Linked DNA regions of Homo sapiens: region 2 is linked to region 1. The links come from fine-mapping of genetic effects on gene expression. A gene starts in region 1. The other region holds a variant in brackets. All regions are shown on one strand. Distances are between the middles of the regions. Region 1 holds the start of SOAT1 (sterol O-acyltransferase 1). Region 2 holds the start of NPHS2 (NPHS2 stomatin family member, podocin).

What was found.
Region 2: its variant is fine-mapped to the expression of SOAT1 in whole blood (TOPMed, PIP 0.91).

Annotation. Positions count from the first base shown.
Region 1 is chr1:179,289,750-179,298,079 of GRCh38, reverse strand. It overlaps SOAT1 (sterol O-acyltransferase 1), which reads right to left and starts at 4,283. Exons shown (of 16, transcript NM_003101.6): 1 at 4,144-4,283. RefSeq lists an enhancer at 3,579-4,086 and a silencer at 4,299-4,488.
Region 2 is chr1:179,572,084-179,580,413 of GRCh38, reverse strand. NPHS2 (NPHS2 stomatin family member, podocin) reads left to right here and starts at 4,466. Exons shown (of 8, transcript NM_014625.4): 1 at 4,466-4,823. The coding sequence starts at 4,550. It also overlaps the pseudogene RNU5F-2P. The variant T/C (reference allele first, on the strand shown) is at 4,365.

The DNA.
Region 1 (8,330 bases):
ACCATGATCTAGTAACTTCTGCATTGCCTGCCACTCACCACCACCCCCTTAAACACCATCAATCTTTTTTTTTTTTTGAGACAGAGTTTCACTCTTGTTGGTCAGACTGGAGTGCAATGGCACGATCTCAGCTCACCGCAACCTCCGCCTCCTGGATTCAAGCGATTCTCCTGCCTCAGCCTCTGGAGCAGCTGGGGTTACAGGCCACCACACCCAGCTAATTTTGTATTTTTAGTAGAGATGGGGTGTCGAACTCCCAACCTCAGGTGATCCGCCTGCCTCGGCCTCCCAAAGTGCTGGGATTACAGGTGTGAGCCACCGCGCCCGGCATTTTTTTTTTTTTTTTGAGACGGAGTCATGCCATGTCGCCCAGGTTGAAGTGCAGTGGCATGATCTTGGCTGTCTCATTTTCTCTACTCATTACTTTGGCCTTCCACTGTTTCTTAAACAAGCGCACCGGCTCACGCCTGTAATCCCAGCACTTTGGGAGGCTGAGGCGGGTGGATCACAAGGTCAGGAATTCTAGACTGGCCTGGCCAAGATGATGAAACCCCGTCTCTACTAAAAATACAAAAAATTAGCCAGGGGTGATGGCAGGTGCCTGTAATCCCAGCTACTCGGGAGGCCGAAGCAGAGAATTGCTTGAACCCAGGAGGCGGAGGTTGCAGTGAGCCGAGATCGCGCCACTGCACTCCAGCCTGGGTGACAGAGCTGGACTCCGTCTCAAAAAAGAAAAGAAAAGGACAGGACATGGGATATTTCACAATTGGGGGACATTAATAGCTATGATTTGATTACATGCACAGTTTTAGGAGGAAGGACAAATAAATATATTGGAGTACACCGCCAGTAAGTTGAGGAAGTGAAAACAGTGATCATAAGACTAGTCTCTCAAGAGGTCTAGCAGTGAAGGAATCTCTAGCGTTTAGGAAGCAGGTAACAAAGTGCTGAGTGCAGTAGGTGTAGCACATATCTCATTTAACATGTCCATTTTTAAAGATGCAGGAGATTCAGAAATGCTAACAAACTTGTTCAAAGTCACAGGTAACATAAAGCTATTCCCCCCCAGGTAACAAAGCTAAGTAGACAGCTATTTATACAACACACTGATTGAAAAAGAATTTCTTAAGAATCTAATCTGTGCACGCAATTACATAATGTTCAGTGTGATAAGCATCTAACTTATCTTAAGAAAGCAAAACAAAAAGAAATGATTTGAGAAACAAATGAACTTGGAAAGACATGTCAACTTTAGCCTGCCTCCGTGTTCCCATTAATACAGCTTTCAAAAGAGCCCATAAATCTGTATCACAAATACTGAGTGCCTACTCCAGGTAAAGAACTTTGCCACATCACCCTTAGATTCAGTGGTGGAAAGGGGACACAACTGTGGATAGAATTTACAATCCAGAGCAAAAAAAATTTCCCTCTGGCACCCAAAGGTTGGCCCTAACACAACGCTACAACTTTTACATATCACAGAACTAGGTCTTTAAGTAATTAGCAAAACTAAAGAACAAGAACAAATTCTCATTTACATCTGTATGGTTAGTATAATCTCTTATTAACCAATGTGGCAAAAAAAATGCAAAACAAAGCCATCCTCTTAGAAAAATAGAACTTGGCTGGTCTTTGTTAAAAACTTTTTCCCATAGGAAAAAGGGACTCTTCCCTGGTTAATACAGTAGTTCTCCCATATCCATGGGGGATACGGTCCAAGACTCCCAGTGGATGCCTAGAACTGTGAATAACAGTGAACCCAATACACGTTGTTTTTTCCTATACATACCTATTATAAAGTTTCATTTACAGGCTGGGCACAGTGGCTCACGCCTGTAATCCCACCTCTTTGGGAGGCCGAGGCAGACCGATCATCTGAGATCAGGAGTTTGAGACCAGTCTGGCCAACACAGTGAAACCCTCCCTGTCTCTACTAAAAATACAAAAATTAGCCGGGTGAGCTGGGCGCGGTGGCTCACGCCTGTAATCCCAGCACTTTGGGAGGCTGAGGCGGGTGGATCACCTGAGGTTGGAAGTTCGAGACCAGCCTGACCAGTAAGATCTGATCAGTCTTTACTAAAAAAAAAAAAAAAAAAAAAAAAAAAAAAAAAAATTAGCCGGGCGTGGTAGCACATGCCCGTAATCCCAGCTACTTGGGAGGCTGAGGCGGAGAATCGCTTGAACCCGGGAGGCGGAGGTTGCGGGGAGCCGAGATCGTGCCATTCCAGCCTGGGCAACAAGCGCCAAACTCCATCTCAAAAAAAAAAAAAAAAATTAGCCGGGCGTACTGGGACACGCCTGTAATCCCAGCTACTTGGGAGGCTGGGGCATGAATATCCCTTGAACCTGGGAGGCAAAGTTTCAAAAAGTTAGGCACAGTAAGAGATTAACAATATACTGTATTAAAATTCACTTGAACATGGTATCTCTCGAAATGTCTTATTGTACTCTGTTTCGCACCTCAGGTAGCTGAAACTACAGAAAGCAGTTAAGTGGGGATCACTGTATTTCTCATTCAAAAGTTCCTTCCTCTGTCCACCAACTTATTCATTCTTTCTCTGGGCCAAGTGCTGGACCAGACCCTGAAAATTACAACAGGCTAAACCAGCCTTCATGAAATGCACTAGCAGAGGAAACAAAGCAACTAATTCATTACAATTAATGATCAACTTCTGCTAAGGAGAATAAAGAGTTCATGGAGGGCTTAATGGGGATGGGGTGATTTCCAGAGGAAGTGATATGTGGGCTGATATCTGAGGCAGGTATAAGAGTTGGAGGGAGGGAGAGAATACAGCATTAGAGGTGGAGGAAACTCCTAAAAGCCAAGAGAGGAAAGAAAATGAAGCTTTCCAGTAACAAAAATAAAGCCAGTGTGGCATGAACCTGGAAAGCCAGAAGGAAAGTGGGCCAAATGAACCAGAGATAGAGTGTGCTCACTCAGTAGGTCTTTATCCTAAAAGACTGCGAAACCTCAGATGCATTCTAAGCATGTGATTCACTAAAACACGTGCATTTCTAAACGATAATTCAGTGCCACAGAGCTCCTTCCAAAACCCATTCTCACACCCAGACAACGCACAGACTTCCTTAACAAGTCATTCACTGACACCGCCCAACTTTTAAAAAGAAAAAAAAAAAGCTTCAAATTGAATTCTACTTCAAGGAAGAGGAAATCAAGCAGGCTGAAAAAAAGAAAAAAGTGGTTTAAACAGGTGGCAGCCACTTAAATATTAAAAAGTGACCAACAGGCCAGGCGCGGTGGCTCACGCCTGTAATCCCAGCACTTTGGGAGGCCGAAGCGGGCGGATCACTTGAGGTCAGGAGTTTGAGACCAACCTGGTCCAACATGGTGAAACCCCGTCTCTACTAAAACTACAAAAATTACCTGGGCGTGGTGGCGCACGCCTGTAATCCCAGCTACTCAGGAGGCTGAGGCACAAGAATCGCTTGAACCCGGGAGGCAGAGGTTGCAGTGAGCCGAGATTGCGCCACTGCACTCCAGCCTTGCGACACAGCGAGACTCCGTCTCAAACAAACAAAAGTGACCAACGAACTTAACCTAAATATATATACGGAGAATAAAGTTTATATAGTTGTTTCTCACTTAGAAATAACCTTTCAATATACATATTATTTAAATTACATGACCATTAACACTTAGGGAAAACAGAAACTTACCTACATCCTAATATTTTACAATAAAACATGAGCTTGATTAAAGGTTCTGGTGCCCCTACAGATTTTCATGTCTTGCTAATACCATCCTTCCCTTCACACATTTTCTCTAAATCATTAAAAAGCTGACTTCCTGAGTGCATTTTTGGTTTCGCTTTTTAAAGAATAAAACGTCTTCTAATTCCTAACTTTCTTTACTACTGACTTGAGAGATGCCACGAGATTTGCGGAACACCAAACCAGCGTGCAGGGTTTAAAAGGCTGCCCGTGACCCGGGCGCCTGACGGTAACTTTCCCGCCCTCCCCTCCCCAACTCCCCTGCAGTCGCCGAGCCTCGCCTTCTCCGCAGCACAGCCCAGGACAAGGCCGGGCCGGAGCTGCTGCCGCCACCGCTTCTCCCTTCCCCGCGGGCTGAGGCCGGTGGACCCAAGCGGGAAGCGAGGAGAGGCGCGGGAGCACCACCGTTACCTGAGGCCCGCGCCCGGCAGCGGGCACTTCGGCCAAGAGGGCAGAGCCGGGAAGCGGTCACAGAGCAGCCAGCAGGAAGGTCGACTCCGGGAAGCTCTCCTGGCGCCCAGGGCCCGCAACGTCGCCTGCTAAGCTAAAGCGCCGGACAGCCCGGCCCCTACGCCCCCTGCCTCCGAGCACCGCTGCGTCACGCGCAGGGCCACCTCCGGCTGAGCATCCTATTGGTGGTCCCCAGGTTGCCAGGCTCCGCCCACCTCCCCGCCCCTTCCCGGGCGCGCGGGTCCCCGGCGCCAGTGCTCGCAGGCTGGCCCTGGCAACCTGCCAAGGAAGCTTCTCACCCGGACATCATGATACCGGCGACAACATCTTGCTTGACACTTCCACCCCAGCAGTAGAATGTGCAGCCAAAACGGGACTGCGACAACTCCCTGCAAGCCCGAAACGGCACCCTGCGTGGTAGCATGGAGCTGCAGGGGCGTTTGGCTCCTAGGCCGACTGGAAGAAGCCGCTTCTGGAGCTGTGGATCATTGCAGTTTGAACTGACCATCCAGGAACAACGTAGAACTAGCCAGAAGCAAGAATCGCTGGCTTATCTGCACACCAAGATTCGTGCCTTTATCAGGAGATTCCTTACCGTTTGAAAACCAGCGTCCTTCAGCAACATTCAAACTAGATAAGGGGAAAAAACCTGCACCAAATAATAAAACACACCAAATAATGGAACAACTAAGTAATATTTAAGGGCCCTTGAGGCCAGGTGCGGTGGCTCACGCCTGTAATCCCAACACTTTGGGAGACCGAGGTGGCTGGGTCACCTGAGGTTAGGATCGAGACCAGCCTGACCAACATGGTGAAACCCCGTCTCTACTAAATACAAAAAATTAGCCGGGCTTGGTGGCGCGCGCCTGTAATCCCAGCTATTCGGGAGGCTGAGGCAGGAGGATTGCTTGAACCCGGAAGCCAGAGGTTGCAGTGAGCCTAGATTGTGCCATTGCACTCCAGCCTGGGCAATAAGAGCTAAACTCCTTCTCAAAAAAAGTTTTAAAAATAAAATAAACAAAGGGCCCTCGTGACTTCATAATCAAAAGAAGAATGATGCAGAGAGATTTGGGACAGAGATTAAATACAACAGTTAATCGCTTGGAATTTGTGAAGGCAGAGGTGTACGTAAATTTAGGGTAAAGGTAGGTGAAAAGGCAATGATGAGAGGAGCAGAGACTGAAGAGTCGCACTCACAGCCTGCAAACTAATACCAGCTAGCCTGGCCTGACTAATCGCTTCTTCCCCACTCCTCCCCAGGACAAAAATCCCTGAACAAACAGATGAGGTTTAGCAGAACTGACTACTCTCTGGGTCCTTTAAACAAAGTGGATTTGTACACGTTCCCTTGGCCACCCAGCAGGCTGCACTGTTCACTCAAAGCAGAAATGGCCCTCAGCATCCAGTCGAGTTTAGTACTGGCTGTCATTGGCAGATCTGCTCCGTTTGGCCTCTTCTACAACTGTGATTGCCACGTGTGCTGACTAGTTGGTGACAGGGTCTGGTAGACCCCCAGCTGCTTCCCCTCCCCACTCCCACTAGTTATAGAGCAGTAGGAACATAGGCACTCATTTCTATTGGGTCTCTGTTGGCTACCTTCTATATACACCAAGATGACTGGCCTTTTCACTGTTTGATTCATTCATTCAAAAAATATTGATAGTATTCTTGGTGCTAGAAATACAGTGGTGAATAAACAGAAGAAGCCCCTGCACTTAGAGGCTTATGTTCTGCAGGACTAGGTATGAAAGGAAACAAACAGGTGGCTCAAGCCTATAATCCCAGCACTTTGGGAGGCTGAGGCAGGAGGATCACTTTGAGGCCAGGAGTCCAAGACCAGCCTGAGCAACATAGTGAGACTCCCTCTCTACAGAATTTAAAAACAACAACAACAACAACAACAATGACAACAAAATTTGCTGGGAATTGTGGCAGGCCCCTATGGTCCCAGCTACTCGGGAGGCTGAGATAAGAGGATTGCTTGTGGTGGGGGATGGGGGGTGAGGGACGGAGGATGCAGTGAGCCAAAAAATCATGCCACTGCACTGCAGCCTGGTCAACACAGTGGGACTCTGTCTCAAACAACAAAAGCTTATGTTTCTAATGAAGAATATAAATAATAAAACGAATAGATGAGATAATCACTGGCAGTGATAAGTACTGAGCAGAAAACAAAACAGAATGGTCAGGGAAGGATTTTCTGAGGAGATAATTCAGGAGCTAAGACCTAAATGACAAGAAGGAGCCAGCCAAGCCAACCATGGGGAGGAAGAACATTCTAGACAGAGGATAATGGGTGTCAAGGCCCCGATGCTGAACTGTGGCTGATGCTGAAGCGTGGCTGTTTGAGGAACAGGCCAGGAGGCTTGAGCATGTCAAATAGGGGTTTGAAGTTGAGTTTGGAGCATTAAGCAGGAACCTAATCACGTTGTTTGGATTTATCTGTTAAGTGCAAAGGCAAGATAATGAAGGGTTTGGGTTTTTGTTGTTTTGAGATGGGGTCTCACTCTGTCGCCCAGGCTGGAGTGCAGTGGTGCAATCAGGGCTCACTGCATCCTCTACCTCCCCAGGCTCGCTAAGTCATCTTCCCACCTCAGCCTCCCTAGTACCTGGGACTACAGGTGGGCGTCACCACACCAGACTAATTTTTGTATTTTTTGTAGAGACAGGGTTTCGCTGTGTTGCCCAGGCTGGTCCTGAACTCCTGGGCTCAAGTGATCCTCCCGCCTCAGCCTCCCAAACTGCTGGGATTACAGGCATGAGCCACGTGCCCGGCCATTGGTTTATTTTTTTTTTTAAATCAACCTATTTTATAGAGAATGACTTGAAGGGAGCAGCAATGGAACAAAAAGGAGCCGAAGAACAATACAAAGTTATTGGGCAAGTTCAGGGGGTAGATGGTGGTACCTGGACTAGGCTGGTTGGTGTGGAAATAGAAATTGAAAGATTTCAGGATATTTTCCCGAGGTGCAGGTGTGAAGAAAGGTAGTAAACGAGATGACTCCCAGGTTGTTTCCTTAAGCAATTGAGAGGATGGGGATACCATTTAGTGCAAGGGCAAAGATGATATATGATTGGAGGGACTCCAAAGCCTGTGCTCAGACTCCAAGCCTCTCCCACCACTGCACTGAAAATCTCACATTACTCAATCCTTGGAAATCAAGGTTTGGTTAAATGCAAGTGTTGACTTCATCATATTGAAAAAAAAACAGGTGTACAGAACTTGTATAGTTGCTAGTGCTAAGAATATGAATAAGACTGTCTATTGGAGACACTAATAGGTATAAGCCATTTCAAAACAATGAGATAAGTGTTACAATAAAAGGATGTTAAAGGCCAGGCGTGGTCGCTCACACCTGTAATCTCAGCACTTTGGGAGGCCAAGGTGGGCGGATCACCTGAGGTCAGGAGTTCGAGACCAGCTTGGCCAACATGGTGAAAACCTGTCTCTACTAAAAATACAAAAAATTAGCCGGGTGTGGTGGCAGGCGCCTATAATCCTAGCTACTTGGGAGGCTGAGGCAGGAGAATCTCTTGAACCTGGGAGGCAGAGGTTGCAGTGAGCCGAGATCGCGCCACTGCACTCCATCCTGGGCAACAGAGCAAGACTCCCTCTCAAAAAGAAAAAAAGAAAAAGATGTTAAAAAAAATTCTTTACAGTGGCTCATGCCTGTAATCCCAGCACTTTGGGAGGCCGAGGTGGGCAGATCACTTGAGGCCATGAGTTCGAGACCAGCCTGGCCAACATGGCAAAACCCCATCTCTACTAAAAATACAAAAAATTAGCTGGGTGTGGTGGCAGGCACCTATAATCCCAGCTACTTGGGAGGCTGAGGCAGGAGAATCGCTTGAACCCGGGAAGTAGAGGTTGCAGTGAGCCGAGATTGCGCCACTGCACTCCAGCCTGGGTGACAGAGCGAAACTCTGTCTCGAAAAAAAGGCTGGGCGCAGTGGCTCACCCCTGTAATCCCAGCACTTTGGGAGGCTGAGGGGGGGCAGATCACCAGGTCAGGAGTTTGAGACCAGCCTGACCAACTTGCTGAAATCCCATCTCTACTAAAAATACAAAAAAAAAAATTAGCCGGGCGCCACGCGCACACCTGTAATCCCAGCTACTCAGGCAGCTGATGCAGGAGAATCGCTTGAAC
Region 2 (8,330 bases), 280 kb before region 1:
TGCGCCCAGCCCAGAAATGTATCTTTAGTGGAAAAAACCCAGAAAGATGATAAAGTATATCGAAACCATCGCTGGCCAGGATCACTTCGCCATGTGCTGTTTCCTCTTCCATGTTTTTCTTTTGAAAATCCAGCACAGGATGCTGGAGCCAGAGTCAGCAGCTAGTGAAAGAGTCAGGATCTTGGCTTCAGAAACATAATCCCTCCTGAACTTTAAACCTAAATATTTCATTGTCCACTGTACATTTCTAGACAGATAACCTGCAGACACTTCTAGCTCAATACCTCTGAAGCTGAACTTGGCCCACCCACCTTTACACAAAATCTGTTTCCTTTTTTGTATTCCCTCAGTTGGATGTCAGCCCCATTCACCAGTCACTTTGATTAGAGTCCTGGGAGTCATCACTTTTCCCTGTAAACGTAACTCATATCCTCCCTCTCACCTGGACTGTTGCAAGAGTCTCCTCACTGGTCTCTCTGCCTCCATCCTCTTCCCATTTCTTTTTCTTTTCTTTTTTTTTTTTTTTTTTTTGAGACAGAGTCTCGCTCTGTCGCCCAGGCTGGAGTGCAGTGGTGTGATCTTAGCTCACTGCAAGCTCCACCTCCCAGATTCACACCATTCTCCTGCCTCAGCATCCCGAGTAGCTGGAACTACAGGTGCCTGCTACCACGCCCGGCTAATTTTTTTATTTTTTTATTTTTAGTAGAGATGGGGTTTCACCGTGTTAGCCAGGATGGTCTCGATCTCCTGATCTCGTGATCTGCCCACCTTGGCCTCCCAAAGTGCTGGAATTACAGGCGTGAGCCACCGCGCCAGGCCCATCCTCTTCCCATTTCAATTCACCTTCCACCTTGTCCATAAAGTGACTCTTCTCAATTGCAAATCTTACCATTTTCCTTCCTTACAATGTTTCAATAGCTTCTTTTGTCAATAAGATAAAATATAAGTTCTCTTATATGGTATAAAAGGCTTTTCATTTCTTGGGCTGCCTACCTCTCCGGCCTCCTCTTTTGACAGTTTGTCAAACCACTGATTGACCTGCTATCTTTTGTACTGTTTCCTCTGGCTGGAAGGCCCAGCTCTCAAAGTCCGCCTGAGGATCACCTACTCATCCCAGTATGGCCCAAACTGGATCCCCTCTGACTCCACTCAGGTAATGTTACTCACTCCCTTCTTTGTGTTCTCACAGTACCATATAGATCAGTGATTCTCAACCAGGAGCAATTTTGTTTGATGCCATGGGGAAAACACTTGGCAATATCTGAAGATAATTTTGGTCACCACAACTAGGGATGAAGTGCTACAGGCATCTGGTAGAGGCCAGGGATTTTGCTAACGATGCTGCGATGCTAATGATGCTGTTACAATGTACAAGACAGCCCTCCACAACAAAGAATCATCCAGTCCAAAATGTCAGTAGTGCTGAGGTTGAAAAACCTGGAGGTACAACACTTTATCACACTTGTCTGTTTACACATCTGTCTCTCCCTGTTATACTATACGCTCCTCAAGGGCATGCACCATGTCTTACCTTTAAATCCTCAGTGGTGAGCAGTGCAATACATGTAGTAGGTGCTCACTAAGTATCTATGGAGTGAATTGATTAGATAGAAGTTAAGTTAAGTCTCATCTTGTCCCTGCACCTAACAGGCCAACACCTGCATTTCAAAGCAAAGAGGGTAGGAACATAAGATGCTTGGGGTCAAAACAGTTAGGGGATGTGGATCAACCAAAGCAGCTGCAACTTCCGATCAGCTGCTAAGCCTATTAAGGTTGAACTCTCCATCTTTCTCAAGTCTTCTATCCCTTCATGGTCCCCACTCCATAATCCCATGAGACTACCACATTATTTTGATTTTCTCCCTCAGAAATATTTCCTGAATCCAAGCCATACCCACTGCCAAAGCTGCAGATCAGGCTCTCAGTTGCATCACTTTCCTAGACCACTATTGTGCCCTCCTATTTAGTCTCTCTGCCACCTACAAATTGAGAAAGTCAAATTTAGTAAGTCCTTATAGTTTCCAGCTCTAAAACAACAGGATTTGTAACATCATGTAGTGCCAATCAATTCCAGCCTTTCCATTAAATAATCCAAATGAATCAGTATTCATGCATTCACTTATTCATATGGATATAATACTTCAAAACACTAACTGGGAATAAGTGTAATACTTTAGAAAGCCTTGCACTCTTTCATAATCTTTCACCTTGGAAACATAAAAGTAAACAGCTTTAATTGATCCTCCCTTTCTTCTAGTAACCCAGTTCCCACAGATGTCAGTTTCTTAACAAATCCAAACAAGGAGTAAAGTATTGAGAGTTTCAGAATGTGTGCATATCATATTTTCAGCAAAGGGATGAGCAACACTTTCAATTAAAAAGGAATCTAAAAGAAAACAGCAGCATCCTTGTAAAAGTAGATGAGGACAGCCAGCTGGACTTAGCTGCTAACTCAGCACTCCCTTCCCCAACTCCTCCACCTTCCAGCCATGCTGCATTGACCTTTTTATCATGGAATGGTATGCAGCTTCTCTGATTTTGTCATTGTCACTCATAATCCCAGCAGACTTGTGTTATAAGCAGCTGCTTATATTGCTGTTATGTATAGATATAGAAATGTAACTTGTCAGTGGTCAAAGAAGCCAAGGAAACTGAGCAAAGGTGACTGAGAACAAGTGCTCAGCATGGGCTCCAACACCCAGTAGGGCCTTTTCTCATTGATTTTTCTCCTACAAGGAATTTCTCTCTTATTGAAAGACAGTACAGTTTGGGGAATATCATTTGACCAGATATCCTGCTCCATTCTTGGAATGAAAAACAGGTGCAATTTTAGTATAAGAGTCTAGCTAGGGATGCGGATGAAATTAATTTATAACAGGACCAGGCTGAGGAAAAACACCAATAAATGCTACAAATAGTTTGTCACTTTTTCTAACAGGGAAATCTCTAAAGGATGATAAAGATGCTAGCTGTGTTTAATAGCAAATGTTAATTTGGGGGAATATGAAATAATCATGATATCTTTCTCTCTTTGAGCCAAACGCAGCTTTGGAATTTTTCTCACTGTAGTGTTGTAGGCAGAAACTATCAACTGAGGCAGGCCCTTGCGAGGAAATATTTATCCTCCTTAGCCCATGCAATGATCAGGTTTAGACAGTAAAAAATCTATTTAAGTGACTGGATTGCTCATCTTTTATTTACTTTACTCCCAGTGGCCTAACCTGGAACATATAGAAGAAAGTAGTGGAATGGTTTTTCCAGACGCACTTCAGTTACTTCAGGTCCTCAGTGTTTAATAAGGTTTTGGGAGAGAAAAAAAGCTATTGCTGTGTGAATTCAATAAATATTTAAAAAATTTAAAAAATCAGTGAGCATTATTTCTGCCATCATGTGATCTGAACTATCTGAGTAGTATCATAAATCTTGGGTGATGGGTTACCTTGACCAACCTCCCTTTCAGTAAGAAACAAATTATTAACAGAAAGTGAAAGAGAAATAAACCTATTCAATGTTTCAAGTCCCTCAGAAGAGGGTGAGGCAGCTCCCCAGATCGTTGCTAGATCCAGCCTGGCCAATGAACCCTGAAAAAGCCCAACTCCTGCTTTCATCATGGAAGCACGGGACAAAGTGTCTCTTCCTAAAAACAGAAGTTAGACCAGACCCCTTCCTGCCTATGATTCTTCAAGAAGCATTGCATCATCAACATCAGGCATAAGCATTAATAAAGACCCTAAATAATAACAGAGACGAAACACATCGCAAAGAGAGTTTTCTTTTATCCCCTTTAAAATGTAAATACTCCCAGGAGGAATCAGCCAACATCATTAGGGGTTAATGCATATGTAGAATAACTAGGGCCAGGATATAAAATAAGAAATACGTAGGGAGGAGAGAAAGGCATCCTTGAGACGACTCCAAGAAGGAAAGTTGGGGATGAGGCGAAATTTCTGATTTTACCTTAAAGTGACCCTAATTCGATGACCTTTTGTGGTTTTTTTCTTTTTTCTTTTTTCTTTTTTACTTGGCCCTGCCCAAGCAGGACCTAAAAACAAACAGACAAAAAAGGTTACTAACAACTGTTCCTCTCCACGAAAATCTGCAGTAAAAGGTAAAAGATGTATTCGTTTTGAAGAGAAACCAGAGCTTGCGATGAGCTTCTGTATCTCCGTCAGCCCTCTAGCATGACATTAGGAACCCTCCAGGAGATGAGTCTTCACAGCCCGGGTTGGCACCTGCAGACACGCACTTTTCAACGCCCGCACCCTGCCCGGGGCCGGCTCTCCCACCCAGGCCTCTCTCTGCTTCAGCGCCGCCCCGGCCGTGGGAGTCGGCGGGCGCAGTCCACAGCTCCACCAAGACACAGC[T/C]GTCGGGGTTCCGGGTGCGCCCCGCCCGCGGCCCCGGTGTCCCGCCCCTCGCCCTCAGCCCCCACCCGACGGTCTTTAGGGTCCCCCGGGCACGCCACGCGGACCCGCAGCGACTCCACAGGGACTGCGCTCCCGTGCCCCTAGCGCTCCCGCGCTGCTGCTCCAGCCGCCCGGCAGCTCTGAGGATGGAGAGGAGGGCGCGGAGCTCCTCCAGGGAGTCCCGCGGGCGAGGCGGCAGGACTCCGCACAAGGAGAACAAGAGGGCAAAGGCCGAGAGGAGCGGCGGAGGCCGCGGGCGCCAGGAGGCTGGGCCCGAGCCGTCGGGCTCCGGACGGGCGGGGACCCCGGGGGAGCCCCGAGCGCCCGCCGCCACGGTGGTGGACGTGGATGAGGTCCGAGGCTCCGGCGAGGAGGGCACCGAGGTGGTGGCGCTGTTGGAGAGCGAGCGGCCCGAGGAAGGTACGGATTCAGCACCACTATCTGCTACTTTTCCAGGTGGTAACTAAGGGGCGTCAGATAAGGTGGAAAGGGTCATCCCCACGAGACCCACTGAAGCCAGAGCAGATTGCTGGATGCTCAGGTTCCCAGGAACGGAAGGGCGTAAGTTAGGAACCCAGCAACCTGCTATGGTGAGCAAAGAACATCAGAAGAAATACAAATATCACTATATACTGGTCTCGGGGCCAGCCTTGGATGGGACTGGGGAGCGAGTGTGGTACAGGTTGGGGACGAAGCAACTTGGCAAAGGAGCCATGGACTTGGTTTTTGTGGCCATGGAGGGGCATACGGGCACCTAATTTAAGTAAAGACATGCACGAGCTGGTGGCTGTAGGCTGTAGGCTTATTCTTCTTCCAGCGTCCCCACCCCTCGGTCTTACCTAAAAGCATTTTAAACTTCTGGGAAGATGATCATTCTTTCTGAAAAGCAGTCGCAGCAGAGCCAAGTGAGGAAGAGCCACACCTGAGTTTAAATCACAGCTCAACCACTTGCTAGCCATGTGATCATAGGAAGGACCTTAACCATCTCTCCTATAACAGTACCTGCCTCAGAGGGTAGTGGTAAGGATACAATGAGAAAAGGCATCCAAAGCACTTTGCACAAAGTCTGGAACAAAAACTTACTCAATTCCAGCTGCAAGCTAAGAGAGAGGAAAATTAGATCAAAGGAGGGAATGCAAAGAAAGGTGTCTCTTTTGCTTCTGCAGGAGAAACAACTCTTGGGAAAATTTTGTCTACCTCCAGTCTTTTTTATAATGAGTGGAAGAAAAAAATGATTACCACTTTAGTGGGATGACAGGTGTTAAAAGAAATTAAATAAGGAATAGTGTGTTATATTGCTTCCTGCTGGCTCTGAAGTTTTAACATTTCCTAGTTACCAGCAAAGCAGTACATGCTGGATCACTGAAAGCTACCATTTAAGGAAGATTTCTGCAGTTGGGGTATAATTTAAATGGGTCACGTTAATACTGTTTTGCCCAGTTGATGATACCCTTTCATCAGTCAGAAACCTCTGTTCAGTAAATGGTTGCTGGGTTCAATGCTGAGGTTAGAGGGCTTGTAACTGTGAGGCAGCAGATCACACTGGTAGGGTAGACAAGTAAGGAAGCCACCATTTATGAAACCCCTACTATATGCCAGGCACACACTGGGTGTTTTACTGAGTTATTTAATCTCTCACCATCCTCTTATCACAGATGAGGAAACATGCTCTGAGAAATTAAGTAACATGCCCAAGTCGTGTAGCTGGGAAGTAGAGAAGCCAAAATCCCAGAGTAAGACAGTCTGATTGAAATGCTCACCCTTGCTTGCTGCTGCCCCTCATTTCTGGTCATGGTCCTATAGCTGTGGCCTTGGGCACCTTTTTGGGCCTCAGTCCCTACAGCTACAGAGTAACAAAAGCAGGAGACCTCAAGCAATGGGCGAGCAGTCCCACTAAGGATGAAGTGACCTTTGCTGAGCCCTTGTGTGGGAGGTTTCTGAAGCTCACGGGGAACAGAGAGTAACATCCCCTCCTCTTTTTCACCTAGCACCACACTCCCAAAGGCAGGCTACTTAAGACGGGAGAAATGAAAAGGCGCTTCACCTCACCAAAATGTTGGGGACTCTCAGACAATGTTTAAAGGTTTTCCTGCTTGAATAATTAATGTTTCACTATTCACTTAAACCAAACAAGTTGGATATTCAAGCAACTTATTCTAACAGAATAATATTTTGGGGGTAAATCTTCACGTTAGGTTTGAGGATATAAATTAGTTTTCTACGCATATCTCTCGCTACTGTATGAAGGAATTTTTGAGGCCTTTCTTCATTTATAAAATGTAATTTTGTATATGCATTTATTTATTTTTACTTGCCATGGCTACCACTGGTAACTGAAACATATTTATGAACTAATTAAAACTGGCAATGATACTGTTAGTCATTGTCCTTGAAAGAGAATATTATAAAAATTAATATGTTGGTAGAGCAGCATTTCCCAGAGTAGGTTCCATGAGAAATAAGTTCCATAGAATATCAATGAGCGTTCCTTAGAGAAAATATTACCTGGTCAAATGTGTGTAAACAAAGCTAAGAATGCTTTGCGAGATTCTCATAGCTTCAATGTCCTGAAGAGCACTGGGAACTCCAGGAATGGGATGTAGTGCCTAGTATTCTCTAAACTCATTTGCCCAGGAAGTTCTTCTTTGGTGGAGCACTCCGTGGGATTAGTATTTCGTAGGATGGCCTTTAGAAACTGCCATACTATGGTATTCAGTGCTGATTTTGTTTTTGTGCTGGTGCAGCTTGCATCTCTGTCCTCTTCTTCAAGTGATCTGCACATCAATTTGGTGGTGACCTTTCTGGGGCATGAAAATCAAATTTTCAGGCCTACTAATTAGTTATCCCCTTTGTCCCCATCTCTTAAAAATAAGATTTTAGGCCAGGTGCCATAGCTCATACCTATAATCCCAGCACTTAGGGAGGCTGAGGTGAGAGGATCACTTGAGGCTTGGAGTTTGAGACCAGCCTGGGCAAAATAGCGAGACCCCATCTCTGCAAAAAAATAAATTAGCCAGGTAAGGTGGCATGCACCTGTAGTCCCAGCTACTTGAGAGGCTAAGGTGGGGGGACTGCTTGAGCCCAGGAGGCCGAGGATGCAGAAAGCCATGATTGCATCACTGCACTCCAGCCTGGAGAGAGCAAGACCCAGTCTCAAAAGAGAGAAAAAAAGAAGGAAAGATGAAAGAAAAGAAAGAAAGAAAGAAGGGAAGGAGGGAGGGAAGGAGGGAGGAAGGGAAGGAAGGAAGGAAAGAAGGAAGGAAGAAAGGAAGGAAAGTAGACTACCATTTCCTAATTTTTAGTCACCTTCTAGTCCTCTACGATCTTTTTAAACTGGCAAATAATATTGCTTTAGTAAGTTTTCTAGTACCTGGAGGTTAAAATTCTTGAAATTTTCATAACTCTTACATTTAAATCATTTTCATTCCTCCTTTCTTCTCACACTCAACTAATATTTATTGAGCACATGTATGGTGCCAGGCACTATTCTAAGCCCTGGGGGCATACTGTAAATAAGACAAGACCCCAAGAAGCTTGTGTTCTTGAGACTGACTCTCCTTGATATTGTTTCATTTATCACCCAAGCATCTTGGATGTTCTGAACCCCAGTTCCTTATCACTTTTTTATACATATTAGTAGGTGAATATTACCCCATAAAGTTAATTTTCAAAGACTATTGAGATCAACACCTTAATGGAGGTGTTAAAATGATGGAACTTCAGACATTAAGGCTTGTAATGAATGGGGAAGTTATTTCATGGAAGATAAGCCTCTGGACATGTGCTTGGAATCACTTAAAACAAACCGGACAGAAGATGGCCAAATAGGAACAGCTCCGGTCTACAGCGCCCAGCATGATCGACACAGAAGACAGGTGATTTCTGCATTTCCAACTGAGGTAACTGGTTCACCTCACCAGGACTGGT